Regions from separate parts of the Homo sapiens genome. Here all the other regions are linked to region 6. The links come from fine-mapping of genetic effects on gene expression. A gene starts in region 6. Each other region holds a variant in brackets. All regions are shown on one strand. Distances are between the middles of the regions.

The links.
Region 1: its variant is fine-mapped to the expression of DELE1 in whole blood (TOPMed, PIP above 0.99).
Region 2: its variant is fine-mapped to the expression of DELE1 in whole blood (TOPMed, PIP above 0.99).
Region 3: its variant is fine-mapped to the expression of DELE1 in whole blood (TOPMed, PIP above 0.99).
Region 4: its variant is fine-mapped to the expression of DELE1 in whole blood (TOPMed, PIP above 0.99).
Region 5: its variant is fine-mapped to the expression of DELE1 in whole blood (INTERVAL, PIP above 0.99). The same link has a PIP of 0.9 or more in lung.

The regions. Positions count from the first base shown.
Region 1 is chr5:141,947,740-141,952,787 of GRCh38, forward strand. It overlaps PCDH12 (protocadherin 12), which reads right to left. Exons shown (of 4, transcript NM_016580.4): 2 at 3,754-3,851; 3 at 1,693-1,844. It also overlaps a transcript of RNF14 not described here. Among named protein-coding and RNA genes, the nearest start is that of PCDH12, 7.9 kb to the right of the region's middle. The variant A/G (reference allele first, on the strand shown) is at 2,254.
Region 2 is chr5:141,954,084-141,959,131 of GRCh38, forward strand. It overlaps PCDH12 (protocadherin 12), which reads right to left and starts at 4,119. Exons shown (of 4, transcript NM_016580.4): 1 at 889-4,119. The coding sequence starts at 3,768. It also overlaps a transcript of RNF14 not described here. RefSeq lists enhancers at 2,979-3,885, 3,886-4,791. The variant C/T (reference allele first, on the strand shown) is at 1,850.
Region 3 is chr5:141,995,994-142,001,041 of GRCh38, forward strand. GNPDA1 (glucosamine-6-phosphate deaminase 1) reads right to left here. Exons shown (of 7, transcript NM_005471.5): 7 at 4,678-5,048. Among named protein-coding and RNA genes, the nearest start is that of GNPDA1, 15 kb to the right of the region's middle. The variant G/T (reference allele first, on the strand shown) is at 2,313.
Region 4 is chr5:141,896,522-141,901,569 of GRCh38, forward strand. It overlaps the pseudogene LOC729080. Among named protein-coding and RNA genes, the nearest start is that of PCDH1, 21 kb to the left of the region's middle. The variant A/G (reference allele first, on the strand shown) is at 2,907.
Region 5 is chr5:141,874,203-141,879,051 of GRCh38, forward strand. It overlaps PCDH1 (protocadherin 1), which reads right to left and starts at 4,208. Exons shown (of 5, transcript NM_032420.5): 1 at 4,021-4,208. The coding sequence starts at 4,060. RefSeq lists enhancers at 2,506-3,190, 3,457-4,206. The variant G/A (reference allele first, on the strand shown) is at 3,301.
Region 6 is chr5:141,921,261-141,926,308 of GRCh38, forward strand. DELE1 (DAP3 binding cell death enhancer 1) reads left to right here and starts at 2,611. Exons shown (of 12, transcript NM_014773.5): 1 at 2,611-2,712; 2 at 3,321-3,435; 3 at 4,150-4,267. The coding sequence starts at 2,682. RefSeq lists an enhancer at 2,492-3,005.

The sequences.
Region 1 (5,048 bases), 26 kb after region 6:
GCAGCAAATCTGAAGCAATCTGAAGCAGATCTGAAGCAGCAAGATCCCAGTCTCCCCATGGCAGTCCAGCCTGTGAGCAGCAAAGGCTTTTCTGCCCCTCCTCTTTCCTTACCCCCAACTCCTTACAGTGCCCCTGTGTTCAGTACCCTTTGTGCTGTGGGCAAGCAGGACCGTGTGGGAACTGACCCCACAGGTTCCAGCCAGAGCTGACCAATAGAGATAGAATCCAAAGCTATATCCCCCAGCCATACATAGCCAGTGAGCACTTGAAATGTGGCTGGTATGGCAGAACTGAATATTTTATTTTATTTAATTTTAATTCACTTAAATTTAAATAGCCACTTGTCGCTAGTGACTACCTCATTGAACAACACAGCTCTAAAATTTACAGCCACACTGCCTGTGTTAATAACCATCCACGAGCTGCACAACCTTGGGCAAATTATGAAACACCCCTGACCCTCACATTTTTCCTTTATGAAATGGGGATAATGAATAGCCCCTATCTCATAAGATTTTCTCATGAGGTACTTAGAACAGGGCCTAGCACATAGAAAGTGCCCAATAAACATTAGCAATATTTTTTAACCAAGGAAAGAGAAGTCCCTGCCATACCTTCAGTGTGTCTGCAGCCAGATGGAGCACATGAGAAACAGTGTTAACTACATAGATAGAAAACCACAGCACAGGGATGGTCTGCCGTGGGGTGTGTTACCAAAGGAGGCTGACCAATGTCCACAGCAGGGGCGGGGGGCGCTAGCAGATTCTTGAATTCAAGTTCACATTATGTATTTATTGTCAAAGCTAATTATTTCTCTGCAAAAAAATCTTTTTGTTTTCATTGCAATTGTTAGCATATTAAAGAGTTGACCTGGTTCCCAGGGTGAAAGGGTATTGAAACACACCAAACGCCAATGAGTGGTAAGAAGTCCATAGAGGACAGGCTGGCTCAGGGTTTGGCTCCCCTTCAATCACTGGTGAGCTGGGTGACTCTGGGAAGGCTACTTGATTTTTTTGAGCCTCGGTTTGCTCATCTGTAAATTCGAGGTAATAATTATCTACTTGAGGGGATTGGTTGGAGGCTTAAATGAGATCATGTACATAAGATGCTTCCCCAGTGCCTGGCATGTTCACTATTTTTACAATGATTTTTAAAATGAATAATCAACGTAGGCCAGGTGCCTACTTTGGCTTTGATTACAGGTGGCTCATGCCTCTAATGCCAGCACTTTGGGAGGCTGAGGTGGGTGGATTGCTTGAGCCCAGGAGTTGGAGACCAGCCTGGGCAACAGGTGAATCCCTGTCCCTACAAAAAAAAAAAAAAATCAAAAATTAGCGGGATGTGGTGGTGGTGCTCACCTGTAGTCCCAGCTACTTGGGAGGCTAAGGTGGGAGGATCACCTGAGCCCAGGAGGTCAATGCTGCAGTGAGCTGTGATCATGCTGTGATCATGCCACTGTACTCCAGCCTGGGTGACAGAGCAAGACCCTGTCTAAAAAAAAAAAAAATCAAAGTAGAACCTGGTCTTTAAAATACTTTCTGAGGCTGCAAGGGTGCAAGGGAAGTTAAATGTTGCTGATGTTCCTCCACAGAAACAGAATGGCTTTTCCCTGCAGTGGATTGGAGCAGAACTCTGAAGCTTGGACACCATGGGGCAGAAGCAGGGTCAAGGTAACTCCAGGGGGTCCCTACCTGTGCTGGGGTCCAGCAGACTTGACAGCTCTTCTTCTAGCAGTTGCTTCACAGAGAGGTCCTCTTCAGGATCCAAAGGCCCTTCCTCCTGTTCTGGGTCTGTCTGGCCTCCAGCCCTTGCACTTGGGCCATCTGTGTCTGGGATTGCACTCCTGCAAAAGAAACCAACCAGTCCATGGGTAGGGACATTCCCATATAGATTCATTCATTCATGCCCATTCATGTTTGCATTCATTTACCCATATAGGGAACTGGATACACAGCCTGGCCTCTAGAGTCAGACCAACCTGGATCATGTGATTCCCGCCCTCCTCTTACTCTGTTTCCTCATTTGTAAAATGAGAGTAATAAATAACACCCACCTCACAGGGTGTTGTGAGGGTAAAATGAGACGTTGTAGGTAGAGGGGCCTACCACAGAGCCTGGCACATTGTAAGCACTCAGCAGACAGAAGTGAAGATGAGTTCATTGATATCATTCTCGTTGCCCCTCCCATGTCTAGGTATTGCCTGGCACACAGGAGGAGTTTAGTAAACCTCAGTGGAGCCAGTGCAGCCGTCC[A/G]TCCGTCCGTAGGAGAAGGCTGGGATTTTTGCCTGTCTCATTGCCTGCTCCCTTACTGATGCTCAGAACAGGGCGTGGCACACAGTGGGTGCTGAATGAGTGACTGAACATTCCTTCCTCCCTACTTTAGGCCAAATCCTAGGCCAGAAGAGCAGACCTATGGAGGGTGCAGCCGGAGTGAGGCAGCCTAAAGCTGCTCAGAATCTGCTACCTGCACCCCAGTCTCCTGCTGTCTCCATCCTGGTCCCTCTCTCCCATAGACACTTGGGGACAGGCCTGGACCCTCATCCCAGCAGGTGGGAAGGCTACCTGAGGGGTTTTAAGGCGTAGGAGTCCTTCTGTTTGTTTGGTTTTGTTCCCCTGTAGCCATTTCTGCTGCTGTGAAGAAATGAGCAGGGAGGTGGCAAGTGTGTGGGTGATAATGACAACTAATGTTTTTGAGCAGTGAGTCTGAGTCAGGCCTTATGCGATGCAAGGTCCATGCACCGTCTTATTCAAACCTTCCACACCTGTAAGGGGTTCTCTTTAATCAACCCATTGTACAAATGAGAAAACCAAGACTTGTGAAGATTTTGCAGGTTGCCCAAGGTCCCCATAGATTAAGAGATAAAGCAAGACTTCAAATCCAGGCCAGTGTGACCCTGGAGTGTGTGGACTCACCCCTGCAGTACACTACCTCTCACCATCCTTGTAAAAAGAAGCTGTAAGTTGTCAGGGCAAGAGCACTGATGCAGGAGTCAGGAACTCTGAGAGCTGGTCCCAGCTTTGCCACTCACTTGTTACATGACCTTTAGCAAAATTGCTTCAAGGGGAAAGGAGTTAGCATTGTGTGTGCACCTACTATGTGTCAGTTGCTGGGCTATGGGCTTAGAATACAATTGATTATGAAATCCTCACCCCATTACCACAAGGGAAATGGGATGGGTTCTGTTTTACAGATGGGGAAACCAAGGTCCTGAGAGATTATCTCACTTGCTCAAGTTTACATAGCTGGTTTGAATCAAGCTACTCAGAGCCTCAGTTTCTCCATCCGTAACAAGAAGTTGGATTTGATGTTCTCTTAAGGTGTCTTCAATTCTAGGATTGCCCAAAGGGACACGCCCACACAGCCATGTCTTTAGTGGGGAGCCTTCATATTATGTTTATGGGTCAAGAGAAAGAGAGGTGACAGTTACAGATATAAAGGCAATTTACAGCACCTCTGTAATTGGGACAAATACAGTCTCAGGGATGAGGTCATTTCCTTGGTGACTACTGTATTGATGGTATTTATCAATACAGCTAGTTAGTCCTACAGGACTTCTAGGTCCTGTAAATACTATCAATACAGTCACCTCACGACCAAAACTCCCAGGGTGGGAGGATGGATGCTGTCTGCTGCACCCTCCCAGGGGACCGGTGTCTGACTTGTGCTCACCCTTCCTCACTCACAGAGGCTGCAGTGATGAGGGGCGGCCAGTAGGGGCCTTGAGATGCCTGTGGGGGCTACGTGCTGCTTACCTGCTGCCTCCTGGCTTGGCCAAGTACTTATTTCCTCGGTGGTTTGGTTTGGGCTGGAATTGGCCCTGATGCAGCAAGGACAGCAGCTGGGAGATTTGCTACAAGACAGGAAAAATCTGTTGACTCCACACAATTCCGACTCAGCACACTTCCTCGCCGGATGTTTCCCTCAATGCCGGTGCTTTCTTTTTATAGTCTTTCCTCTGGCTTCAGATGTTTGTGTGATCAGATGGGGGATGGTGCCCAGTGACAGAGACAGGGACCTGGGCGGGCAGGTCCCCTGCTCTGTCATGTCACCCCAGGACCTGAGTGTCTGAAGGAGAGCAAGAGGACCCTCTGGGCCTGTCCCCTCATACTCATTCCTCCGAGTGTCCTGCACCTGGTGGACTCTGAGAGATGGGGTGAAAAAGGCATTTCCTGACCATCAATTTGTTGTTACTTTGATGAAGATTATCTTAAAGAGTTATGTTCCCCTTTAGCAGTATTTGGACATTCGGCCAATTTTTGTTGACCAGATGTAAGACTATGTTGTAGAGAAGGCAAAATGGTGTCATTGAATTATTCATTTATTCATCTTTTCATTCATTCAACAAGTACTTAATAAGTGCCAGGCAGGGTGGTTGCTATGGGAGTAAGAAGGAGAAGGAGCCCCAGCTGCTGCCCTCAGCGTGGTCACATCTGTCAGGATGTGAAGGTTGCAGGCAGCCCCACAGGGAGGCTGGCTGGAGATCAGGGCAGCGAAGAGTGTTTACCACAGGGGTTGCCTCTGGGCATAGGGAAAGAATGGGGGCTCTGTGGGAGCAGAGGGCCCCTAACCCAACTTGGAGCAGGGAGGAAGCAGGGGGGTGGTACTGGATTAAGTTAATTCATTCATTTCAACAGATGTTACTGAGTTCATACCACATGCCAGGCACCTCTGCTGAGACCCAAAGGCTCCATAGGAGTTTGGCAAGTGGAAAGAGAATGAAGGTCTGGGCAAGGGGTGGGGAGGTTTTCAGGCAGAAGCACTGCACACTGAAAGGCTGGAAGAGAAGGTAGAGTTTCAGAAAGACTGGAGAATGGAGTAGGGGATGGGTGAGATATCACGGCCAGACCCTATAGGCCATTGGAAGGGAGAGGCAACAGATCAAGTCCTGGGAGGCGGAGTTCTAGTTCAAGGCCATTTGTAGCTTATTGTATAGCATTAGACAGGTTTTTAGACCTCCTCAGACCTCAGTTTCCTCATCTCTAATAGGGGGCTAGAAATACCCACACGCCTTCTTCTCAGTGTTGTCACGATTAAATGGTTTGAAAAA
Region 2 (5,048 bases), 33 kb after region 6:
GGTAAGTTTGGTCTCATAATCCCCATTTTATAGATGAGGAAAATGAGGCTCAGATGTTGAAGGACGTGTACAAGGTTGCCCAGCTCCTAAGTGGCTGTGTTGAAATCTGAACTCCAATCTGCCTAACTGCTAAGTTCTAAGGTAATTTCCACTGCCCCATCCGCAGGCCCAGCCGGAAAGCTCTGGGGTCTCAGACAAATTATTTGCAACACCTGGGTTTGGGTGCAATGATGCCTATGCTGGCCTTCTTCATAGGGAAGTTGCCCAGATGAGATGAAGGCAGGCAAATAGTGGAGATGGAGAAGTGCTTTGAGGAAGTAATAGTAATAATTTGCTGAGTACTGACTACATGTCAGATGGACACTGTTCTACAGGCATTAAGAGCATTCACTCATTTTATTTTCAAGCAAACTTAGAAGATGGGTGGTGTTAACATAGACATCTTCAACAGAGATGTTAACTTCCTCTGTGGTTCAGAGCTAGGAAGAAGTGGAGCCAGGATTTGAACCCAGGTAACCTTGCCCAAAGCTTATACTCTTAATCACTACCTTTGCTGTGTGTCTACTTGTGAGGCACCATAAATGCCTTATAGGAATTAATTGATCAAATCCTCTGGACAACTCTACAAGGTAGATACTCTTACTATCATCTCTAATTTACAGATAAGACAACTAAGGCCCAGAGACAGTAAGGAATTTGCCTAGGATCACACAGCTAAGTTCAGCCGATCACAAAGCTGTGCCCTGAACCATTGCTACCCAAAGCATCAGAAAGTGCCAGGTGAGCCTAAGGAAGAAACATGAGGACTGTGCAGGTTATGGGGGTGTCTGATTCTGTTTCTGGTGGTCCAGGAGTGACCAGAGAAAGAGCTGCCCATGCCCCAGGTACCTGAACAGGAGGAGAATCCACAGTGAGCTCCTCCACGGGGTTCCGCTCGGCGAAGGCAGCCACAGACAGCCGGACCAGGCTCCGCAGGATCTGACGGGGCCCTGATTCTTTCTCAGGGGACACTTTGCCATTGAGATGTCGCTGCCGTCTCAGGGTTGCAGAGGAGGCTGGTGGCCTCTGTGGGGCTTCCTCACTGCCCTGGTCTCCAGCCAGCCTCCCTGTGGGGCTGCCTGCAACCTTCAGAGGCCTGGAACGTGGCTGGCCTGTGGCAGGCTGGGGCTCGGGAAGGTTCAGGTTCTCCCGGGAGGCATTCCTCTGCCTGGGATGGTTGAAAAGGAGGTTGACCGTGTCTTGCAGCACCTCTCGGCTCTCCGCCGGTGCTCCCTGGTTGCCTTGATTACGCAGCGTCCTGTACAGGGTCGGGGTGAGGTGGAAGGGGGCCTGCAGGCAGGGGTCCCAGCCTGCTTCCATCATCGCCTCCTTGTCCACATCTTTGTGGGACTGCCCGACTTCACAAGGCTCACCTGCCTGACCCCTGAGCACAGGCACGAGGTGGATGTCTGCCTTCTGAATGTGTTTCTGGGGCCTCTTGGGCTGCTGGCGGTAGGTGGACTCGGCCTCCCGACAGTTGTAGGCCCTGTTGTCCTTCTTTTCTGTCCGGCAGATGGACATGAACAAAGCCAGGATCAACCCGAAGATGCCCAACAGTACAGCCAGGCAGATCACCGTCAGCATCGACATGCTCAAGGCCCCAGGCTTGCGGGCTGAGTCCCTCAGGTGGTCCACACTGGTGACAAACATGACCCTCAACAGGGCTCGGGTCTGTAAGGGGGGGCTTCCCTGGTCCTCTACTACTATCTCCAGCTCCCACTCACTCCCAATGAGGCTGCTGGCATTGGTGACATTGACGAACAGCTGCCCCGTATGAGGGTTGAGGATGAAGAGGTGGGCTTCATTTCCA[C/T]TGCGGATGCTGTAGAGGGGCTCTCCATTTGCCCCCGAGTCTGCATCTCTTGCCACAATGGTTGTCAAAAGGAATGGCCGGGAGCTGTGAGTGGCCAGTGGAGGTGTGTCAGTGCCCGCTGGGCCCAAGCCATTGGGAGTCTCGATGGGCACCAGCAGGTGGCCTGTGGAGGCATTCACAAGCACGGAGAGGCTGGCTTTTCCATCGCTGAGCACAGGCTGGACCACCTCTGGGGCATTATCATTGGCATCCAAGAGGCTGACCCACACAGAGACACTGGATGCAAGCATGGGTTGCCCGCTGTCCTCTGCGATCACCTGGAACTCAAAGCCGGCCATCTCTTCATAGTTCAGTGACCTCTGAGCAGTGACCTCTCCTGTGTTGGAGTCAATAGCTACTAAGTGAGCAACTGGGGAGTCCTGGATGCGGTATGAGACTTTTCCATTAATGCCCAAGTCTGCATCATGAGCCTTGATGGTAATGAGGTGAAGAGAGGGTAAGTTGTTTTCCCGCGTGGAGACTTCATACCTGCTTTTCTCAAACACAGGTGCATTGTCGTTGATGTCACTGATCTGAATGCTGAGCTGTTTCTTGGCTGATAAGGGCTGGAGTCCTTGGTCTTGGGCTAACAGAGTGAGGGTATATTTGGGCCACTGCTCTCTGTCCAGTGTGGCATTGGTTAGCAACATGTATGTGTTGCCATTAGTTCTTTTCAGCCTGAAGTGGCCCAGCTCTTGGCTCAGCCAGCAGTGGACCAAACCATTGTGTCCTGAATCCAAGTCATCTGCCATGACAAGAGCAATAAAACTGTCCTTGGGAAGAGCTTCTGACACCAGTGATGGCTGGGAGGCCCATGTGACGTGGATGCTTGGGATGTTGTCATTGACATCCAGAACCTTGATGAGAACTTTGCAATGGGCTGGGATAGGATTGGGACCCAGGTCCCTTGCCTGAACATCCACCTCGTAGGCAGGGTTCTTTTCATAGTCTAGAGGTCGACGCAGAATGACCTGGCCTGTCTTGGCATCAATACTGAAGGTGTCCAGCACCTCTGGAGGCATGTGCTTACTGAGGAAGAACTCCACCTCCCCATTGGGGCCTTGGTCAGGGTCTGTGGCGGTCAGTTTTATGAGAAGCGTACCAGGTGCAGCATCTTCTTGGATTTCCAGTGCCAGTGAACTCTCAGCAAACGCAGGGCTATTGTCATTGGAGTCCAAGACGTTGACCTTGACCAAGCTGGTACCTGACTTGGGGGGGTTCCCATTGTCATAGGCAGTTAACACCAGATCAAAAAATGAATGGATTTCCCTGTCCAGCTCCTTCACCACTATGAGTTCTGCATGTTTGGTCTCATCAGGGCCCACAATGACATCCAAGGCAAAGTGCTCACTGGGAGACAGAGTGTAGGTGTGCAGGGTGTTAGGGCCTGTGTCTGGGTCAAGAGCTCTGTCCAGGGGGATCCGGGTTCGCAGAGAGGCGCTCTCAGAGATTTCCAGCTCCTGCTCGCCTTTGGGAAACCGTGGCTGGTGGTCATTGATGTCCAGCACTTGGATCTCCACATGGATCAGAGCCAAATCCCCTGTGGCAAGCACATCAAAGGAAACCAGGCAGGGATCCCACTGTCGGCACAGCTGCTCTCGATCCAGCCGCCTGCCTGTGCTGAGCAAGCCTTCCTCAGAGTCCACCTGAATGGGGAGCGCCTGAGGCAGCTGCAACACCTGGAAGGCAGCCCCAGCTTGCCTCCGCCTCTCCTCCCGGCCCAGTTCCTGGGACAGCTTCCCGATCACTGTACCAGATGGCACTTCCTCTGACACTTGGTATTTCACCGTGAGAGTGGTCACCTCCTGACAATCCCCTAAAAGAAATAAGTAGCCACCTGGCCCCAAAAGCCCCAGCAGAAGTTGCAGAAGTTGCATCATGCTTACCGCCAAGTGGGCTAGATTCAGAAACCACTAGAGTTCTTTCAAGGCTGGACAAGTCCTCCAGTGTTTCCTGGATGGCTTGATCAGCCCCGTGCTCCTTCCCCCAGAGCTGCCGGCACAACCTTGTCCCATAGTTAGATGATTATGAAACAAGCAGGACCCCAAGGCAAGGCCATCTTCATTGGAAGCGATCTGAGATGTCCAAACGCCGATCAAGAATTGCCAGGGGAGACCCCCTACTGGGGAACTAGTTGGTCCACTTCAGCAAATGATGGACAAGAGCTGGTCTAAGAGGGACCTGACCCAGTTGAGCAGGATGTGGGACTCTGACTGCCAAACAGTTGCTAGGCTGGGGAAACAGAGAAGCAGCTTTTTCCTATGGAAACCCCACCTACAGGAAAAGGGAGGGCTGTGAGTTTCAATGCCAATTAGAGAAAGAGCATTTCCTGTGAAGCTAAGTGGCCTGCCGCTGAGGAGGATGAGGCCGGGGCTCCGGGGACAGGCCAGATGGGAAGCTGCTGTCCACGCAGCAAGGCGGCTGCTGAGGGAAAGGGAGCCTCTGCATCACCAAGTGAGCAGAAAACTTGAGCCTCCACCTGCTTGCACGTGGACTGATGCCCCTCCCGGGCAAGTCATGTTTCCTGTTTCTCTCCCCTTCCCCAACTCTCTTTGTTCCTATCTTTTCCCCCATTGTTCCCCTCTCATTCCTGTCTTTTTCCCAATCTTGTTTACCTCTCTGTCTTGACTCTGCCCTGATCACCCGTTTTTGTCTCACTGGAAAGCAGCTGTGATTAACAGAGCAGCCATCAGAGGTAAACTGCCTGAGTTCAAATTCTGACTTTGCAACTTACCAGCGGTGTCATCTGGGACAAGTCACTTAACTTTCCTGGGCCTCCATTACCTCATCTGTAGAGTGGGGATGGGAGTAAGAATAGTAGCCCTTTCAGCAGGAAACTGTGAGGATTAAACGAAATGATGTAGGAAGGGCTTTGGCCTGGGCCTGGCCCCGAGTCACAGGCAGTGACGTTATTGCAAGGGGTGAGTGTTGTAATCTGCACAACTTGTCACACCCTATGGCTACCTCTGGATCTTGGATTGGCCCTGGGGCAGTCCCTGCCCACACTGACTTATGAGGGTGCCCATGGTCTTGATTCCAGAAGCTGCAAGAACCTGTGCAACTTGACCGTGTGGCTCTCCTCCCGCTTCCCTTCTGCCCCCCTCCAGCCTTGAAGTCCATTGTTCTCTGCATCTGGTCCAGACTGAGTCTCTGTCTGGGG
Region 3 (5,048 bases), 75 kb after region 6:
CAGACTGGGAATTTAAAATAACTGATTAATGTGCCAGATTTCTAATAGAAAAAATGAACAACATGCAAGAATAGTCACGTAGTATAAGCAACAGATGGAAACTTAGAATCAAAAAGAAATGCAAAAAAAAAAAAAAAAAAAGACCAGGTGCAGTGGCTCACGCCTGTAATCCCAACACTTTAGGAAGCTGAGGCGGGAGGATCACCTGAGGTCGGGAGTTCAAGACCAGCCTGACCAACATGGAGAAACCCCATCTCTACTAAAAATACAAAATTAGCCTGGCGTGGTGGTGCATGCCTGTAATCCCAGCTACTCGAGAGGCTGAGGCAGGAGAATAGCTTGAATCCGGGAGGCGGAGGTTGCAGTGAGACAAGATCGTGTCATTGCACTCCAGCCTGGGCAACAAGAGCGAAACTCTGTCTCAAAAAAAAAAAAAAAAAAGCTAGAAATAAAACACTGAAACAGACATGAATGACTTTGATGGGCTCATAAGACTGAACACAGCCAGAAAGAATCAGTGAACTTGAAGATATGTCAATAGAAACTTCCCAAATTGAAATTGAAAGATTTCAAAAAGGAATGGAAAATTTTTAAAAACAGCAGAATATCCAAGAACTGTGGGATAATTTTTAAAAGTGTAGGTTGGATGTAGTGTCTTACACTTGTAATCCCAGCACTTTGGGAGGCTGAGGTAGGCGATTGCTTGAGGCCAGGAGTTTGAGTCCAGCCTGGGCAACATGACAAAACCCAGTGTCTACAAAAAAAAAAAAAAAAAAAAAAAAAATACAAAAATTAGCCAAGCGTGGTGGTGCACACCTGTAATCCCAGCTACTCAGGAGGCTAAGGTGGGAGGATCGCTTGAGCCCGGGAGGTGGAGATTGCAGTGAGCTGAGATCATGCCACTGCACTCCAGCCTGGGCAACAGAGAACTTGTTTCCAAAAAAAAGGCAAAGTGTAGCTACGCGTAATGGGAATACGGTAGTTCCCCCTTATCCACAGTTTCACTTTCTATGGTCAACTGTAGTCCAAAAATAGGTAAGTGCAGTACAATAAGATTTTGAGAGGGAGAGAGACAATGCTCACATAACTTATTACAGTGTATTATAATTATTCTATTTTTGTAAATTTCTTACTGCGCCTAGTTTATAGATTAAGCTTTATCATAGGTATATGTGTATCAAAAAAAACTATCAGGTTCAGTACTATCCACGGTTTCAGGCATTCACTGGGGGTCTTAGAACATATGCCCTGTGGATGAAGGGGCGACTACCATACCAGAAGGAGAAGAGAGAATAGAAGAGTGAGAGATTAAAGTCAGAGTATGGGTAACTAGAAACTTTACTCTAAAGGAGATCAGAAAAATGAGGATGTACTTAGGGGGCAAATGAGGTACAGTTTTGTTTTTAAATCTTGTCTTGAATGCCATAGGAGTGGTCCAGGAGAGGACAATTTGATGCTGTAGGTGAGAGTTGGGAGTGTTGCCAGAGCAACGTCCTCAAGGAGGCAAGAGAGGATGGGATCTGGTGTGCAAGCAGAGGGCTCGGCCAAGGAGCAGGTAACAGGAAGACAGCAAGTGTGAGAGCAGGGCTGACGTCTGGGTATGTGATGATGGGAACTCGTGGACATTCTTTTCTGATTGCTTCTGTTTTCAAGGTCATTAGCTGAAAGGAAAGCTGGGATAGAGGGGTTAGAGGTTTGGGACCTTATGATTTAGTCTTTGAGGATACTAAATGGACTAGTCTGATTATTAATGTAGTATGACTGCCAGCTGGTGGTAATGGCTCCCCTGAGGTCCAAAGTACTATGTTCTGTTTTACCTGCCCATTATTGCATAACTCTAAATCCTGTCACACTGTATCTTACCGGAAATGGACGTGTTTCATTAGCATCTCATCACAGTAAGGATTTTGGTTCCCAGGAAAGAAGCATCAAATTTTCCAAGTTAGATCTCCTCAGTAGGCCAGTTGGCTAATCCATTATGTAATATGCCATGATTTCCCCTGATTGTTATGTACGATCACTACTCATGGGGACAACTATCAGGCTTATGGTTCAACAAGTACCAGTGCCTTCTAGATATCAAGGCACTGCTATAGGGGCAGAATAGAGCAGTATTTAACATCTACCTTCATGGAGTTTACATTTAGTGGGAAACAAAATACACGTCCAGTGGTAAAGGGTTCTGAGAAAATAGCGCACGGCAAGGATAGGAACTTGGGGATTGCAGCTTTATATTGGAGGATCAGGGAAGAGTTAATCTGATAAATGACATTTGAGGCAAGGCCTGAAGGACGGAAAGAGTAGAAGAGTAG[G/T]CCATAGGGGTAATAGCCAGGCTCTTGTGTTCACCTCTACTTTATAAACAGACTAATAGAAGGAAGGTGGCACCCATTGATGTCAACACTGCCACTTTTTACTAAATGTAAGTAAACACATTCTGTCTACTCTTCCTGAAATACAGCTCTGTGTGCACTTAATATTACATTTTCCTTTTCTTATCAAACTTGCTGTTTTACAAATTCAACTTGTTCCAGTCAGCTGTATTTAGTATTTCCTTTTTGATCAAATTGTGAAAACCTGTTCAGTGGGAACCCATTTAACTGGCTGTTTCGTCCTCTCAGAACTGCCTCAGACATTTTTGTTTTGTTTTTTTTCATCCCCAGACTTCCTGGGACAAGCCCCAGACTTTTTTTTTGGAGACGACGTCTTGCTCTGTAGCCCAGGCTGGAGTGTAGTGGCATGATCTTGGCACACTGCAACCTCTGCCTCCTGGGTTCAAGCGATTCTCCTGCCTCAGCCTCCCCAGTAGCTAGGATTACAGGTGCACGCCACTGCACCTGGCTAATTTTTTGTATTTTTAGTAGGGATGGGGTTTCACCATGTTGGCCAGGCTGGTCTTGAACTCCTGACCTCAGGTGATCCGCCCGCCTCAGCCTCCCAAAGTGCTAGGATTACAGGCGTGAGCTACTGCTCCTGGCCAGCCCCAGACATTTTTGAAAGCACCCTTATTTCCAGTAACAAGATATTCCAGGCCTACTCTGATCCCTACCCCCAAACATATTAGCTCCTGTACAAGGAGCCCTGGTATTAGAAGCCCAAGATGACCCAGGGGTGTACATCCCACTTGATCGCATAAGCACTGGTTGTAGCAGTACACTGCTGTTGAGCCACCAGGAAAACACAGACTCAGGAAGGACATCAGATCTTTCTAAGGTCTCAAGTTCATACAGGTATCTCCAGTTTAGCTGTCATCACTAAGTCCTTTTTTGTCTCATTTTAATGTAGTTACTATAACATACTTAAAATTTAAACCCTTCTTGACTGGATAAACAAAATATATGTCCACAAAACGGAATACTATACAGCAATAAAAAGGAATGGACTGCTGCTACGTGTTGTATGAACCTGAAAAATGTTATGCTTAGTGAAAAAAGCCAGACACAAAAGATGTCATGTCACATGATTCCATTTATATTAAATGACCAGAAAAGGTAAATCTGTAGACGCAAAGCAGACCAGTAGTTGCCTGGGGCTGGGGTTAGGAGTAGGGAGCTTTTGGGAATGATAGAAATGGATTGTGATGCTGGGCGCGGTGGCTCATGCCTGTAATCCCAGCACTTTAGGAGGCCAAGGCAGGCAGATCACTTAAGGCCAGGAATTCGAGACCAGCCTGGCCAATGTGGTGAAACCCTGTCTCTACTAAAAATACAAAAATTAGGTGGGTGTGGTGGTGCACACCTGTAATCCCAGCTACTGGGCAGTCTGAGGCAGGAGAATCACTTGAACCCAGGAAGCAGAGGTTGCAGTGAGCTGAGATCGCGCCACTGCACTCCAGCCTGGAAGACAGGGTGAGACTTTCTCTCTTTAAAAAAAAAAAAAAAAAAGGATTGTGGTAAGGAAGTGCAGTATTCTATAAACATAAAAATCATTGGATTTATATCAAAAAAATATATTTTTTTGAGATGGGGTCTTGTTCTGTTGTCCAGAGTTGGGGTACAGTGATGCGATTATAGTTCACAGCAGTCTTGAACTCCTGGGCTCAAGCAATCCTCTTGTCTCAGCCTTCTGAGTGGCTGGGACTACAGGCATACACCACCATGCTTGGCTAATTTTTAAAAATTTCGTAGAGACAGGGTCTTGTTATGTTGCCCAGGCTGGTTTTGAACTGCTGATCTCAGGTGATTCTCCTGCTTTGGCCTCCCAAAGCACTGGGATTATAGGCATGAGCCACTGCACCCAGCCTCAAAATAGTTAAAAAAATTAAACCCTTCTTTTAACTTCTATATCTACCTCCTTAATTGGCTATATTGCCCTAAGATATTCCATTATATTAACTTTAAAAAAAAAAAAACCTATATGTATTTTTGCATACCTTGCAATAATATCCCTCATCACAAATCTGCCTTAATCTTTATAACAGCTGTATCCTCGTTTGGATCTCAGGTACAGCCCCAACATGACAATTTATTGCTCATCTGTTCATTCCTACCCTTTTTCCTGTAAGTGCTCCATTTTCATAAAATCTTATTTTTCACTCTGATGATGGTTGCTATGCTTGTGGCCTTCCTGCAGGCTCTTGTGAGGACTGAATGTGAGGCTTTGCTTACCAGCTCTTTCTAAAATATATAAATAGCCCAGAGAGTCTTCTAAAATTGGGGGCTCAAATCCACAAATGACATGTTATTTGAAAATACTGGATTTAATAGAAAATATCACATTGTAAACAAATCCATTGATCCATGAGCTTAAAACAGAATGACGGCACAATCACATAGAAAAGCTAAAGACAAAACACTGGTACCAAACATAGCCCTTAGGCCTGGGCTAGGCTCTCAAAGGTCTTTCCCAGAAATGGAGGCAGCAGTAGCTTCAAACAGGCACAAAAACAGCCAGGAGGAGGCAGCATCCACTCCATGAAGGCCTAAGACAATGAAAGGAAGCCAGAGCAACAGACCACCTTGGGATCCGGGGAGAAGGGTAAATGGGCAAAAGGGTTGTATTTCCTGATGCTCTCAGAACATCAGACCACACCATGTGAATTTAAGCAGGAC
Region 4 (5,048 bases), 25 kb before region 6:
TTTCTCTGTGAATTTACGCACCCAGAGCAGAGCGGGTCCAGTGCGCAGCGTACGGACGGCGTCCACACCCAGCTGCCAGGGCCTTGGCGGGCAGGGCGCGGCGGGTGACGGGACGGCGTGCAGGGTGCAGAGCAGGGCCCGCACGCTCCGCACCACTCACAGCGCCATGTTCGCTGCTGTTGTTGTTTTTTGAGACGGAGTCTTGCTCTGTCGCCCAGGCTGGAGTGCAGTGGCACGATCTCAGCTCACTGCAAGCTCCACCTCCTGGGTTTACGCCATTCTTCTGCCTCAGCCTCCCGAGTAGCTGGGACTACAGGTGCCCGCCACCATGCCTGGCTAATTTTTTGTATTTTTTAGTAGAGACGGGGTTTCACCGTGTTAGCCAGGATGGTCTTGATCTCCTGACCTCGTGATCCAGCCGCCTCGGCCTCCCAAAGTGCTGGGATTACAGGCGTGAGCTACCTCACCCGGCCCTGAGGTTTTGTTATCTACCTATAATCTGGACTGGATCTTAAATTCTTCTAGTTTCCTCCAATATCTGGTTATCACTCTCCAAACAATTTCCAATTTTTCTCCCACCTTATGACTGAGAATCACTAAAAATTAAAACTGCCCTTTTTCCAAAGCCCTGCAAGCTAAAGCTGGACAACTTCATATAGACTTTAGAGAAATCACAACAGCCATATATGAACAATTTTTGTACGTGTTGCTCTATGTGCTACTCAGAAAGTTCCCCAGAACACCTCATGCAAACTGCAAACCAGGAAAATCTATCAGCTTGTCACTACTTGTCCTCATTCTACCATCTCAAGATGCTTTGAGCTCGAATCTAGAAATTTTTTTGACTGGCTGTCTTCCGGACTCAAAAACTGAGTTTATGGATTGCTCTAATTGTTAATGTTTGTTTTTCTATTGTTTGTCTGGAAATGCCTCTTATTAAATGCCTGATTGATTACACTACATAGAGGCCTAACTTTGGTAGAAGCCTGACTGCAATACCCCCTAACAACTGGAATAAGATACAACTGTTAACTATTTAACTGGACTGAGTTATTCCTGGAACTGAGAGATGGTTCAATGGGTTATGCAATAATCTTCCAACTCAGTTTTTGGGCTGTGAGGCCTCTTGGGAAAGTTTCAGACAGGAGAATGATGGGGTTCAGGATACCGTACTCCAAAATATGGCAACTTGGCATTTGAAAAAACAGCAGAGGAGAACCACTCTCACCTTTCCCTCTCCCTTCTTCCCGGAAGCAGGCCATAAAACCTGGGAAGGTTGGCCGGGCGCAGTGGCTCATGCCTGTAATCCCAGCGCTTTGGGAGGCTGAAGCTGGTGGATCACCTGAGGTCGGGAGTTCAAGACCAGCTTGGCCAACATGGTGAAACCCCGTCTCTACTAAAAATACAAAAAAAAAAAAAGTAGCCGGGCATGGTGGTGGGCACCCGTAATCCCAGCTACTTGGGAGGCTGAGGCAGGAGAATCACTTGAACCCAGGAGGCAGAGGTTGCAGTGAGCCGAGATCACGCCACTGCACTCCAGCCTGGGCGACAGAGTGCAACTCCATCTCAAAAAAAAGAAAAGAAAAAAACCTGGGAAGGTTACTCTCTGACCTTCTCCCTCCTTTCTTTCCTGAAGTAGGTCATGAAATCCTCATTCCAGAGATACCCTCCCTATACTGAAGAAAAGGGACTTCCTTGTTCTTGAAGGCAGAAGAATCTGAACAGGACTTGCTAAGTCCCCTACCACCAGTTTATTACCATTAGATCACACCCCTTTTGTCCTATCATACTTCTGCATGAGTGACCACTTCTACTCTTCCTCAAACCTAAGCCTAAATAAATACACAAGTTTTCCTGTTTTGGGGGGGTCTTCATTTCCTTATGAAGGCTCCTGTGTCATGTAAACCTTATATTAAATACATTTGCATACTTTTCTCTTCTTAATCTGTTTTTTATTATTGGAATCTTGGCCATGAACCTAGAAGTGGATGAGAAAATAAATCTTTTCTCTCCAACACAACACTGACTTTTTTTTTCTTTGTTTCTCCAAGGAGTCAGTCATTTCACAACTATTTGAGGGCCTAGTTCAGTGCAGGAAAACAGAAACTACTCTAGGTATTTTGAACTGAGGAGAACTTAGTGTAGAGAATTAGTGTTTACACAATCATTGAAAGGAGTTGTGGAATGGACTTCCCAAAACTGCAACAGGAGAGCGAATATGTTTGCCATGATTAGTAAGATGGGGAATCAAAAGGCCACCACTGTAACTGTTGAGTTAAAGAACACATTGTCAGAGATCTGCCATCCAGGAACTAGAAAGCAGAGATCAGGAAGCTGAATGGCTGTTGCAGGAGAACCCCATGTCTCCAGGATCCTGCTTGCCAACAGAAAGCCCAAAATAGCAGAAAGAAGTCATCTTCCTCCTTTCTGTCTTACAGTCATACAAGTGTGCCTAATTGTAAGGGAGTCATAGAAATGTATTCTAGCTTCCCGGTCCCTGTAACACATTAGAAGAAAATAAGAATAGAGGATGCATGCCAAATGACCATATTCAATACAAACCTGCCCTTTAGGAGTCCACAGATTAGAGAGATAACACCACAATAAATGCAGGTTGAAAGGATGAGCCAGGAAGTATCTGTTTCAGACCGAGTTTAAGTGGCACGAGTCAGGGACCATTTTTTTTTTTTCTTTTTGAGGTGGAGTTTTGCTCTCGTTGCTCAGGCTGGAGTGCAATGGCGTGATTTCGGCTCACTGCAACCTCTGCCTCCCAGGTTCAAGTGATTCTCCTGCCTCTGCCTCCCGAGTAGCTGGGATTACAGGCACGCGCCACCACACCAGCCAATTTTGTATTTTTAGTAGAGACGGGGTTTCTCCATGTTGGTCAGCCTGGTCTCGAACTTCCA[A/G]CCTCAGGTGATCTGCCAGCCTCGGCCTCCCAAAGTACTGGGATTACAGGCATGAGCCACCGTATCCACCCCATAGTAGTCTTAAAATGATTCCAGACTTAATTTGAAGCCATGGAGGTCAGACTCAGAATCATTAAAGGGACAAAGCTGAAGTCAGTGCCACAGGGAAGAGAGGGGAACAGAAGACACCATGACCTGATGTCAAAAGCTTGGAGCTCTCACTTCCTGCAAGTGGCTGTACACAAGGCCGCGAGTGCAGCCCCAAGTAAATAGGGCCCACCTTCAGTGGCAGCTTCTCTCTCACACTGGCTGGTTATGGTTTATGTGGCCCTTTGTGGCTTACTTGTCACCTGCCTCGAGACCATCATCATTCAGAAATGAGCCCGCAGGATCACCACTGGGAGAAGAGAAATACAGAGGGAAAAGATTCAAAGTGGTCCCATCTTCCAAGCAGGAGGGCCAGGGACTCAGGAGTATTTTGCTGTAGAAGGCCAAGGATCAGGTGCCTCCCAGCTGCCTGTATTTGCTTCCTTCTGCAATTCCAGATGTTTTGGCACCTCTCTTCTGTGACTCCAGGAATCAGGAGCCAGATCCTGGTGGTTCTAAGACAAGGGAATAGTGGCAGCTTCTAAGATTGCAAATAAATCCCAAGTCCATTAAAGGGCACTACTTTGTATCTGTTGAGTGAGTATGAGGTGGTCTGGTATCTCCTCGGGGCTTAAATAGAAGGCAGCCTATCCTGCTGGTTCAAAGCTTGGCCTCAGAGTCCTGTCCTGGCTCAGTTGCTTCCCAGTTGTGTGATGTTGGGCAAATTACTTATTCTCAAAATGGAAATAGTGGTACATTTTTCTCTCAAGATGGTTGTGAGGATTAATTAATTATGTGTAACTATATATAAAGTACTTAGCCCAGTGCCTGGCATATAGTAAGCTTTCTATAAATGGTAGCTGATAGTATTTTTGTTATTATTATCAATACCATATGTTCTCGGCAACAAACATCTCCCATCTTAATTACCAGAAAACATCTGGAATAGAAGGTTCCTCACACAAAGCTTGGTCTAGAACTATGAACTCTTAGTCACATTCTGGATAAGTGCAGAGCCAGACCAGGCCAGGATGCCCCTCAGGCCTGTTTCCTCCAGCTGAGAAGTTTCTGTCTGCTTCAATCCTAGTGCTGTCCCTGTGTAGTTCTACTGGGCATCTTGTTTTTTTTTTTTTGAGATGGAATCTCATTGTATTGCCCAGGCTGGAGTGCAGTGGCATGATGTTGGCTCACTGGAACCTCCACCTCCTGGGTTCAAGCGATTCTTGTGCCTCAGCCTCCCAAGTAGCTGGGACAACAGGTGCATGCCACCATGCCTGGCTAATTTTTGTATTTTTAGTAGAGGCGGTTTTGCCATGTTGACCAGGCTGGTCTCGAACTCCTGATCTCAAATGATCCACCTGCCTCAGCCTTCCAAAGTCCTGGGATTACAGGCTTGAGCCACTGCACCCGGCCTCTGCTGGGCATCTTAACATGCCCCAGGAGAGTTACATGGTGTCACCCTGGCAGGTGAGAAAGGAACATACTGGTGATAGTCAGAGGCCCAAGATCAGAAGGATTTGGAATTATCTGTTCTGACATTTTCTGTCTGTTTTCCTTCTTCTCTAATGTCCTTTCCCCAAAGCATTCAACTTCATTTTTTTTAAATTAATTAATTTTTTTTTTTTGAGATGGAGTTTCGCTCTTGTTGCCCAGGCTGGAGTGCAATGGTGTGATCTCGGCTCACCGCAACCTAGGCCTCCCAGGTTCAAGCGATTCTCCTGCCTCAGCCTCCCTAGTAGCTGGGATTACAGGCATGTGCCACCATGCCCGGCTAATTTTGTATTTTTAGTAGAGACAGGGTTTCTCCATGTTTGTCAGGCTGGTCTTGAACTCCTGACCTCAGGTGATCCACCCGCCTCAGCCTCCCAAAGTACTGGGATTACAGGCGTGAGCCACTACGCCCAGCCATTTAAGTTTTATTGAACATCAATTCTGTGCCAGGCATTGTGCTAGCACTTGGTGTATAGTGAAGAACAGAGAGAAAGGCAACTCCTAACCAACTGGAGTTCTCTTTCTAATGGGGCCACAAACCATATAAATGTGATCACATAAATA
Region 5 (4,849 bases), 47 kb before region 6:
CACCCAGGGGCCCGTAGAAATGCAGGAAGAGAGCCAGGGTGGCCTGGAAGGGCAGGAGCAGCAATAAGGAGGCCTTCCCTCACCCGTGTTCCCACCATCTCTGAACTTTGTCCCCAGCAGTTGGGCACTGGGAGTCATTAATCCCACACAGCAGCCTTTGATACATGCAGCGCCTTATCTGCCCTTCCCCGGGCCCTGGCTGCCTTCCTGGGCAACGGTGCCCTACCTCCCCCCAGTGACATGGGCACCCAGGACCCTGAGAAGCCAGAGCCTGAGGGGGAACAGGCGCAGGGACCCATGTCCCTCAGATAGAGGAGCAGAAGTGCCGTCAGGGGTGTAGGAGTAAGGGATAAGGAGGGGACGGAGTCCCAGAAAAGCTGAAGGAAATACTGTCTGTGTCAACATCTGGGAAGGGATGAGAACAGAGGTGAGAGTTCACCCGGAAACTTCACTTCCAGCCCACCCCGGGGACCAAGGTCCATTTTGCTGAGTGCTGTGGCCAGAGAAAAAACACACAGAGGCAGCCACCACTGTCCCAGTAGCCAGGTCAGCTCTGACTCCCCACCCTCACCCCAGCACTGTTACACAACGGTCACTGCCGCGGGCACAAAACACCAAGGGACAAACGGACTGTCGCGGGGAGAGGGGAAGAAAATGGGGTTGCGTGGGGTGGAGCTGAACAGAAGCCTCCCACAGAGAGCAAGTGTGCAGACCTCAGCTCCTCTCCCCTCTCTCCCACAACCCTCTATTAGCCTCTGCAGGGCTTCTGGGCACCTGCATGTCAGATCGTTGGGGTTAGAACCCTCGCTCCACCACTTCCTAGCTGTGTGACATTAACCAAGTGAATTTACTTTTCTGAACCTGTTTCCATACTGTGAAATGGAAATAATGAAACCTGCCTCTTGAAATTATTTGGGAGAATTAAATGAGATCTCATGCCTATAAGGTCTATTACATTAAGGTCTATTTACATTACATGTAAAGGACAAATCATTTTTTTTTCTAAGTCTTCTAATTGCTGAATAGACCATTTTATTTCCAGCATCGGGCACACAGTGGGTGCTCCTTGGTTCGATGAATAAACAAGCCAATCCCCTCGCTGGTTGGTAAGTCCTATGAAGGCAATGATGGTATGTCTCTTACTACTGCATCCTCACCACCCACCATGGACCCTGGCAGATAAAAGGTGCTCAATACATTGTTGAACAGAATCTCTGCACCAACTATCCTTGCTCACGGCAGGGGCAGCCCTCACCTTCTTCTTTCCCTACACCCCTCCCCGAACCCTGATTCCCACTTAGCTCCTCCCCCACCCTCGCGGCCCCCTCCTGGCCCTTCAACCCCCTTCTCAGCAATTAGCTTACTATCGCTTGCCCAGCTCCCCTGCAGAAGTAGCCACAGCAGCAGCCCCTCTGCTAAGAAGATGGCAGACCAGCAAGACACCCACTTCCAGCTGAAGTCCCTTTTGGAATTGGGAATTGGAGGTGGGTAGGAGAAGGGGTAAAAACTAAATGCGGCCAGAACTGAATCCAGACTTGCCTCCCTATCACACTGCCTCTGGCTACCTCTGGGGGCCAGTCTGCCTCTCCCCTCGATTCCACCCCATGCCCTAGTCTAGTTGTAATTACAGGTTCCAATTCCCCCAGACCTTAACGTCAATAAAGTAACACCCACCTACTCCCGCGCCCCCCACCCCCTACAAACACAGCTAGACCTCCGGCTTGTCATAAAAACTTTCTGGGCGGCCCCTTCCCTGGCAGCTCCCGAGGGTTGACCCAGAGCAGGTGCTAGAAGCCTCGCGGCGTCTTCCTGCACGAAGCGACCCAAGCAGCCCCAGTCCGCACCGCCTTGGTCAGCGGGCGCTCCCAGCACACACCCAGCGCGCGGAGCGACTCCTCCCAGAGGACGCCGAGTGTGTGTGTGTGTTGCGGAGATTAGGGGGTGGCGGGGGGGACGGCGGCAGTTTCTTGGGCTCTGGCGGCCCCACCCCCACCCCGGCAGCGCCCAGCCTCCAGGAACCCAAGGCAAGGCTAGGGCGCGGCGTGGTGAGAACGCGCTTCGGCTAGTGGGGGGAGCCCTTGCGCCCCCCGCACCCAGGCCACCGCGGGGAATCCCTCCTCCCCGGCATCTCCGGCCTCGGCCTAGGGTCCCCCGCAAGCCGGAGCCGGCGCGAGCGGCGCAGCGGGCGCCAGGAGGGGGCGGGGAGGGAGCCGGCGCCGGAATCACAAAGCCGCGAACCCGGCTAGGCGGGGACATTCTCATAAAACCGACCCTCTCGTGGCGAGCAGAGGGGGTTTTTTGCCCTACGCTCAATCCTCCAAGGCCTCAGTGCCGCCCCCAGTCTTTCCTGGCAGAAGAAATAGTAGCCGACCACTGTTGGGGAAACTGAGGCCAGAATTCTGACTTACAGAGGGTAGCTGGGGGGAAGGGGTGCGAGACCACCTCGCCTACAAATTCTGCTCCTATGCCTGCCGCGATCTCCGTTCTGGCTCCAGGGCCTGCCCGCGCACACACTGGCCTACAGCGGGGACCAGGCGGAGGGGGCGCTCAGGTGTGAGACGAACCCAGGTGTGCGGGACCCACCAAGGTGTGTGGGACCCAGGTGTGCTGGAGACCCAGGTGGCTCAGAAAACTCAGCTAAATGGCTGGAAGAGGGTCGCAATCACCGTCCCAGGCTAGCACCCTCTACAAAGGAACCTGGGGCCCCAGAGCTCCGGGGAGGCGGGATGGCTTGGCCAGCCAGGTCCAGCTTGTTCCCGGAACACCAGCCGGTTCGGCCCGGGAGTGGGGGTTGGGGAGGCGCCGACTGGGAAGCCGGCAGGCCGGCCCAGCCTTCCCGCTGTGCCGATATTTACAATAATAATGTCGCGATTAACGTGGCGGGGCGCTTGGGGCTCGCCGAACGACCCCGGCGGCTTCTCCTGCCTGAATCTGGACTCCGAGAGAGAGGAACGGAGTGTGTGTGTTTGTGTGTATGCGCTGCAGGGTGTAATGTAATGTGACACTGTTGGTTTAAGGTGTGTGTGACACCCAGTGTTAAGATGGGTGAAGCAGTGGATTCTGTGTTTGTGACCGTGAGGCGCTGCTGTAGGTGCCAATTCCTGTGTTAGAGTGTGTGCCATCAAGCGTGTGCTGAGATACTGGGTTGTGTGTTTGTGTGGGTGCAGTAGAGGGGTGCAAGGAGACCTGTGCTGTGTACCTATGTTCTGGCCAAGAAGTGGGTAAGATGATATATGCTAGGGTGTGTTCCTTAAAGGAATGTGGGGGGTGGCTAGGTTTTGAGGGTTCATCTAGTGAACT[G/A]TGGCTGTGACACTCGTACATGAGGGCACGAGATTGTGTTTGTGTGTCCACGTCGCGGGGTGTCACACCCGGTTGTGTTATTGCTCTGTAAAGCCACGGGTTGTGTGTCGGTGCTGCTGATCGTGCAGACACTGAAGCGGATTCTGAGCTGGCGACGGTGCCCCAGTGGGCGCTGGTGTGCGGGAGGTATGTCTGTGTGCACATATGCAGGGATGTATGTATGTGTGTATATATGTCCACGGTCTGGCCCTCTGGGTGCCCGCGAGAAGCTGGAAGCGGCTGAGTGAGCCGAGGTAGTTGCCCAACAAGTGTGTATGTATGTGTTGTGGACAACGGTCCTTGCTTGCTCCGTCCTCCGGGAGACCCCCACCAAACTGGGGGCCGCGCGCTTCCCCAAACCCATCCTCCACGCCGCGCGCTCCTGGAGTCTCCTTATCCCCGTCTCTCCGAGCGCGCCCAGGTTTGGGACGCGGGGACTAGGGTTCTGCTCAGCACCCCCTCCCCTCCCTCGGCTTCTCGCCGCGGACCTGGGAGGACGGAATCCCTCAGCCGCATCCCCTGCTATGGGCTCCCAGCAGCCCCCACCTCAGCCCCCTCGCGCCGAGCTCGTGTTGGGCCCCCGCGGCCTCGCTCCGCCGAGCGCCCCTCCCTCAGCTCCCGCCGGCCATGACCGCTTCGGGCCCCAAGCCGCTGCTGCCTCCACCGCCGCCGGATCCTTACCCGCCTCCGGGCAGCGCCGGCCGCCCGCCCCGCTGTCCATGAGCCGCCGCCGGCCCCGGCCTGGGCTGCGGCTCCGCACGGCTGGGGCTGGAGCTGCAGTTCGGGCTCCGGCTCCGGCTCCGGCTGGCTCTGGGCGCAGCAGCCCGGCGGCTTTGCGTCCGCGCCGCGCTCCCGCTCCCCGAGTGTGTGAGGCGGCGGCGGCGGCGGCGGCGGCGGCGGCGGCGGCGGCGGAGCCAGCAGAGAGCGGAGCGCACAGCCCGGCCCGCCCCCTCCCTCCCCCCTCCCTCCCGGCCCGCCCGCCTCCCCGCCCCCCCTCCGGCCGGGAGGTGGAGCTCGGGACCGCTCCGGTCCGGCTGGGAGGGGACCCCGAGCACCGCTCCCCAAAGCCTGGACCCCTCCCTCTGCCATCTCTTCACTGCCCGAGGCCCAGTACACAGGCCGTGCCCTCCTCTGAGCTTCACCTTACACTTATCCCACCCAAGCCTCCATCTAGGACCGCTCCTGGATTCCCCTCCTTACCCTACTCAAACACCTGTCCCCAGCTCTGTCTGCCCCCTGGGAAGTCGAGGCAAGGGAAGTGTCTCCCACAGCGCCTTCTTCCCTGGGCACCTGCTCCTCCATATCCACCCTCTTCCCGCCCAGATCCCCGATCGCCCTGTGTGGCCCTCCCTTCCCGCTGCGCTCGGGGAAAGTCCACCCCTCCCCCTCCGGCCGAAGCCGCAGAGCGGTCAGCCTCGGTGGCCGCAGCAAGCCGTGGGGGTGGGGCTATGGAGGGGACCGTGGGAGGAGGAGGCTAATGGGACCCGGGGGCTCTAGAGTGAGGATGGGG
Region 6 (5,048 bases):
TGTTCTGTCAACAGGGATTGTTTGGACATATTCTTTGGGCTGACAATTTATGTCAAGCCCTATGTGGGACACGGAATAGGGAAATGCTATTCCTGTCCTGAAAGGAGAGAACTGGGAAGGCTAGAGTTACACAAATGAGATAAATACCAAGACAGCATATAATTACTGCTAAACTGTGTAGTAAGAAATTAAGTGCTATAGGAATTGGGAAAAGTAGGGAGCAGGGAGGGCTCAAACAGTTGAGGAGTCTACACTGAAGAGCTGGGATTGGGCTGAACCTTGAGAAATGACACAAACTATGGATAGTCTGAAAGGAAGGAGGGTACAAAAGACGCAGGAGGAAGAACACAGCCAAACCAGCATACTTGTTTGTTACTTTATTTTCGGGACAGCAACACAAGGAATGTGAAAGGTTGCCGTCCCAAATCCCGAAGCAAGGCTATTTCTGAATAGTTGTCCAACATTCAAACTTCTGGGCCTTTATTTATTGTTTCCTCCGCTTGCAATGCCTTTCTTCCTTCTCCACCTGGCAAGCTCTTATTCACATTTAAAGGCCCCGCTCAAATGCAACTACTTTTCTGAAGCCTTCCAAGGGATCCCACAATCCATTGTTCATGCTTCTATGGGAACCTAACCTATTACACTTGCCTGCTTACCTCCCCTACTAATATAATTAATAGCAACTTACACTTACTGGGCTTTTACTATGTGCCAGGAACTATGCTAAACATTTTTATTTATTTATTTTTTATTTTTTGAAGGGTATTCCCAAAACACCAAGTTAAACATTTTTAACATATTATTTTATTTAAACCTCACAACAATTGCATGAGGTATTTTCCCTATTTTACGGATGAAGCTCTTGAGACTTAGTGTGGTTAAGGAACCTGCACAAGATAACATACCTACGAAGTAAGCAAGCTGTGATTCCAACCCAGATTTGTGGGACTCCAAAGCCCACTACTAATCCACTGGACCGTGTTCCTGGAGGCCACAAATGCTCTTTCCTCAGCTGTCTTCTCAGATCCTAGAACGGGCTGATATATGGCTCAAAAGTTCTTTAACGGCCAGGCACGGTGGCTCAAGCCTGTAATCCCAGCACTTTGGAAGGCCAAGGCAGGAGGATCACCTGAGGTCCAGGAGTTCGAGACCAACCTGGCCAACATGGTGAAACCCTGTCTCTACTAAAAATACAAAAATTAGCAGGATGTGGTAGCAGGCGCCTGTAATCTCAGCTACTTGGGAGGCTGAGGCAAGAGAATCGCTTGAACCTGGGAGGCAGAGGTTGCAGTGAGCCGAGATCACACCATTGCACTCCAGCCTGGGCGACAGAGAATCCGTCTCAAAAGAAAAAAAAAAGTTGTCTAACATATTAATACAACTTTCAAGCCACATGCCTCGGTCTAAAAGTAGGTGCCCCCAGTACACTTTTACCCCAGGTAGCAACTTCCACTCACCTTAAAGTCACATACCTGGAGGAAGGGGATAGGGAGGAAATCTAAACATCTTATACTTGAATGTAAGCTCCGTTATTTCACGGATTCAAATGTGGTGAAAGGAACTATTTTTTTTTCCTTTTTTTTTTGAGATGGAGTCTCACTCTGTCGCCCAGGCGCGATCTCGGCTCACTGCAACCTCCCGTCTCCCGTGTTCAAGCAATTCTCCTGCCTCAGCCTCCAGAGTAGCTAGGATTACAGGCGCCCACCACCACGCGCAACTGATTTTTGTATTTTTAGTAGAGACAGGGTTTCACCATGTTGGCCAGGCTGGTCTCAAACTCCTGACCTCAGGTGATCCGCCCGCCTCGGCCTCCCAGAGTGCTGGGATTACAGGCGTGAGCCACCGGGACCAGACGGAACTATTCTTTTCCACAAAAGAACAAACACATACATAACTTTTGCCACGTCTGAAGACGAGGGTTCTAATAGGGCGCGGGTGGTGTCTCAGGTATTTTGAAAGGAGCTACCCAAGAATCTCAGCTTGTCAGGCCAGTCATTCCATTTGACCCTATCTGGCGCGTATTGGGGCCCCGACAAGGTAAGGGGTTGGCATGAAGCTGCACAGTGAGATAAAGCTGGACCGGAGCTAGAACCCAGAATCAAAGCCTTGCCCTGTGCGGTTTCTCATCGCCTACGCAGTCGGGCCCTGGCCTGGCATCTCCAGGCAGGTGGCCTTGGACGGAAGCCCGGCCTACTGGCTTCATTTGTGGGACCCCGGGGGTCCTCTCCTCCGCCCATGGAGCCTGGTTACTCCCACTTCCTCAAGCCTAGGGCCTGGAGAAGCCTTTCCTGGTTCGCGGCCTCACGGTCTGCAAGGTCCTCTTACTTCCCTGAAGCCGCTCCAGCCCCACTTCCCGAAGGTCCCGCTTCCGGGTGGCTCGCTTCGCCACCTGCGGTCCCCTGCCTCGGCTTGGGAACGCCAAGGACATCCCCCACGGAAGCCTGGGCCCACATCCCCATGCCCTTGCCGCACGTCACCGCCCCGCTGGCCCCGAATACGCCTCCGCCCTGCACTTCCTCTCTGCAGCGCCGTCTTTCCGGCCGGGCTCCCTTCTAATTGGCCAGCTCAGAGCTTCCTCGGGTACTCGGCCACTCGGGGCATCGCGGCGGCCTTTCTAGCCGCTGTCCCAAGGGTTGGTCTCGCGCTTTCGGCTGCGAGCTCTCTGTGGTGCTGGCAGCGACATGTGGCGCCTCCCGGGACTCCTGGGCCGAGGTAAGGGACGTCCAAGCAACCAGCGTCACTCTGGGCCGCAAAGACCGAACTGGAGTGGGGGCGGGCCCGAGGAAACAGCCGAAGCGATCGTGGGCCGGGTTAGAGCCAAGGAAGGCGGGGCTTGAAAGAGGGCGGGGAAGTCAGGGGCTGCTGGAATTTGAGATGTGGATGGGCCTAGCTAGAAGAGGGTGGAGTCCAAGAAGTTGGTAGGACTGTTGGGAGGGGGAGGAGTCCAATGGCAGGAGATGGTGGACTGAATGAATGAAAGAGGATTAGGGGCCAATGGAGTAGGCATAGCCAGTGAAGAGAGGAGAGGTTTAGAGTCAAAGAGCCCCAAACATTAGTGAGAGTATATGTATGAACGTTTGGTCATCTTAGAACAGTGGTTGGCATCCACAGGAGACCAGCAGAATCACATGGGCGCTTTTAAAAAACGTGGATGCTCTACCCTGAGAAATCTTAGTTTATTGGTTCTGGGGTACTACCCTAGAATCTGTAGTAGATAAAAGATTCCCATGTGTATCCATGTTTAAGAACCTCTGCTGAGGCAGATGACAGTGATTCCTGGGTTCTTGTTGAGGTGCCTGAGTTTTGGTTGTTCTGTACAGCTCTTCCCCGTACACTGGGACCTAGCCTCTGGAGGGTGACTCCTAAGTCCACCAGCCCAGATGGGCCTCAGACTACCTCCTCCACTTTGCTGGTTCCTGTGCCTAACCTCGACAGGTAAGATACTGCCATTTTACCACTCATTTCCTCCCCTAGTCACCCTTTTTTTTTATTTTTTTTTTTTTGTTGTTTTTTGAGATGGAGTCTCATTCTGTCGCCCAGGCTGGAGTGCAGTGGGGCAATCTCAGCTCACTGCAACCTCCGCCTCCCAGGTTCAAGCAGTTCTCTGCCTCAGCCTCCCGAGTAGCTGGGATTACAGGCACCCGTCACCACACCCTGCTAATTTTTATTTTATTTTATTTTTTTTGAGACAGAGTCTCGCTCTGTCGCCCAGGCTGGAGTGCAGTGGCGCGATCTTGGCTCACTGAAACCTCCGCCTCCTGGGTTCAAGCGATTCTGCTGCCTCAGCCTCCCAAGTAGCTGGGATTTCAGGCATGCACCATCACGCCTGGCTAATTTTTTTTGTATTTTTAGTAGAGACGGGGTTTCACCATGTTAGCCAGGATGGTCTTGATCTCCTGATCTCATGATCTGCCCGCCTCAGCCTCCCAAAGTGCTGGGATTACAGTGTGAGCCACTGTACCCAGCCAATTTTTATATTTTTAGTAGAGATGGGGTTTCACCATCTTGACCAGGCTGGTCTTGAACTCCTGACCTCGTGATCCACCCACCTCAGCCTCCCAAATTGTTGGGATTACAGGTGTGAGCCACCGCACCCAGTCCCTGGTCTCCCTTTGCCCCTACTTGATAGCCTCTTATTTCATCATCTAGGTCAGGTCCCCATGGCCCAGGCACGAGCGGGGGTCCAAGGTCCCATGGATGGAAGGATGCCTTCCAATGGATGTCTTCCCGTGTCTCCCCGAACACCCTATGGGATGCCATATCTTGGGTAAGGCTTCCCCAGCCTGGTCCTTGACCTTCAGTGTAGATGAGAATGATCCTTCATGGGTATACAGCCGAACCTGGAACAAGGGCTAGGGAATCACTGTGTCCATTTAACAAGTAACCCATGGTATTGGAGCATATTCAAGGAGATATTGCCACTTTCCACACCCCCGCCATGTATGTTTTCCTCATTTAATTCAGTAAACATTTATGTAACACCTTGTCTGGGCCAGGCATTTTTGCTAGTCACTACGGACATAGCAGAGAACAAGATAGATACATTCTTGCCTTCATGGATCTTACAATAAATAATAATACATTGCATCTTTTTTTTATTATTCATTTTTTTTATTTTTAAATTATTATTTTTTTCTGAGACAGAGTCTTTCTCTGTCGCCCAGGCTGAAGTGCAGCGGCATGATCTTGGCTCACTGCAACCTCCGTCTCCCGGGTTCAAGCAATTCTCCTGCTTCAGCCTCCCAAGTAGCTGGGATTACAGGCACGTGCCACCACGCCTGGATAATTTTTGTGTTTTTAGTAGAGACGGGGTTTCACCATTTTGGCCAGGATGGTCTCGAACTCCTGATCTCGTGACCCACCCACCGCGGCCTCCCAAAGTGCTGGGATTACAGCTGTGAGCCACCGCGCCCGGCCTTATAGCATTATTTATTAATGTAAAGTATTATACATGCATTATCTTGTGTAATCCTTACAAAAATCTTACAAGGGAAATATCACCTTCATTTTACAGCTGAGGAATCTCAGGCTCTGAAATATTAGGTAAC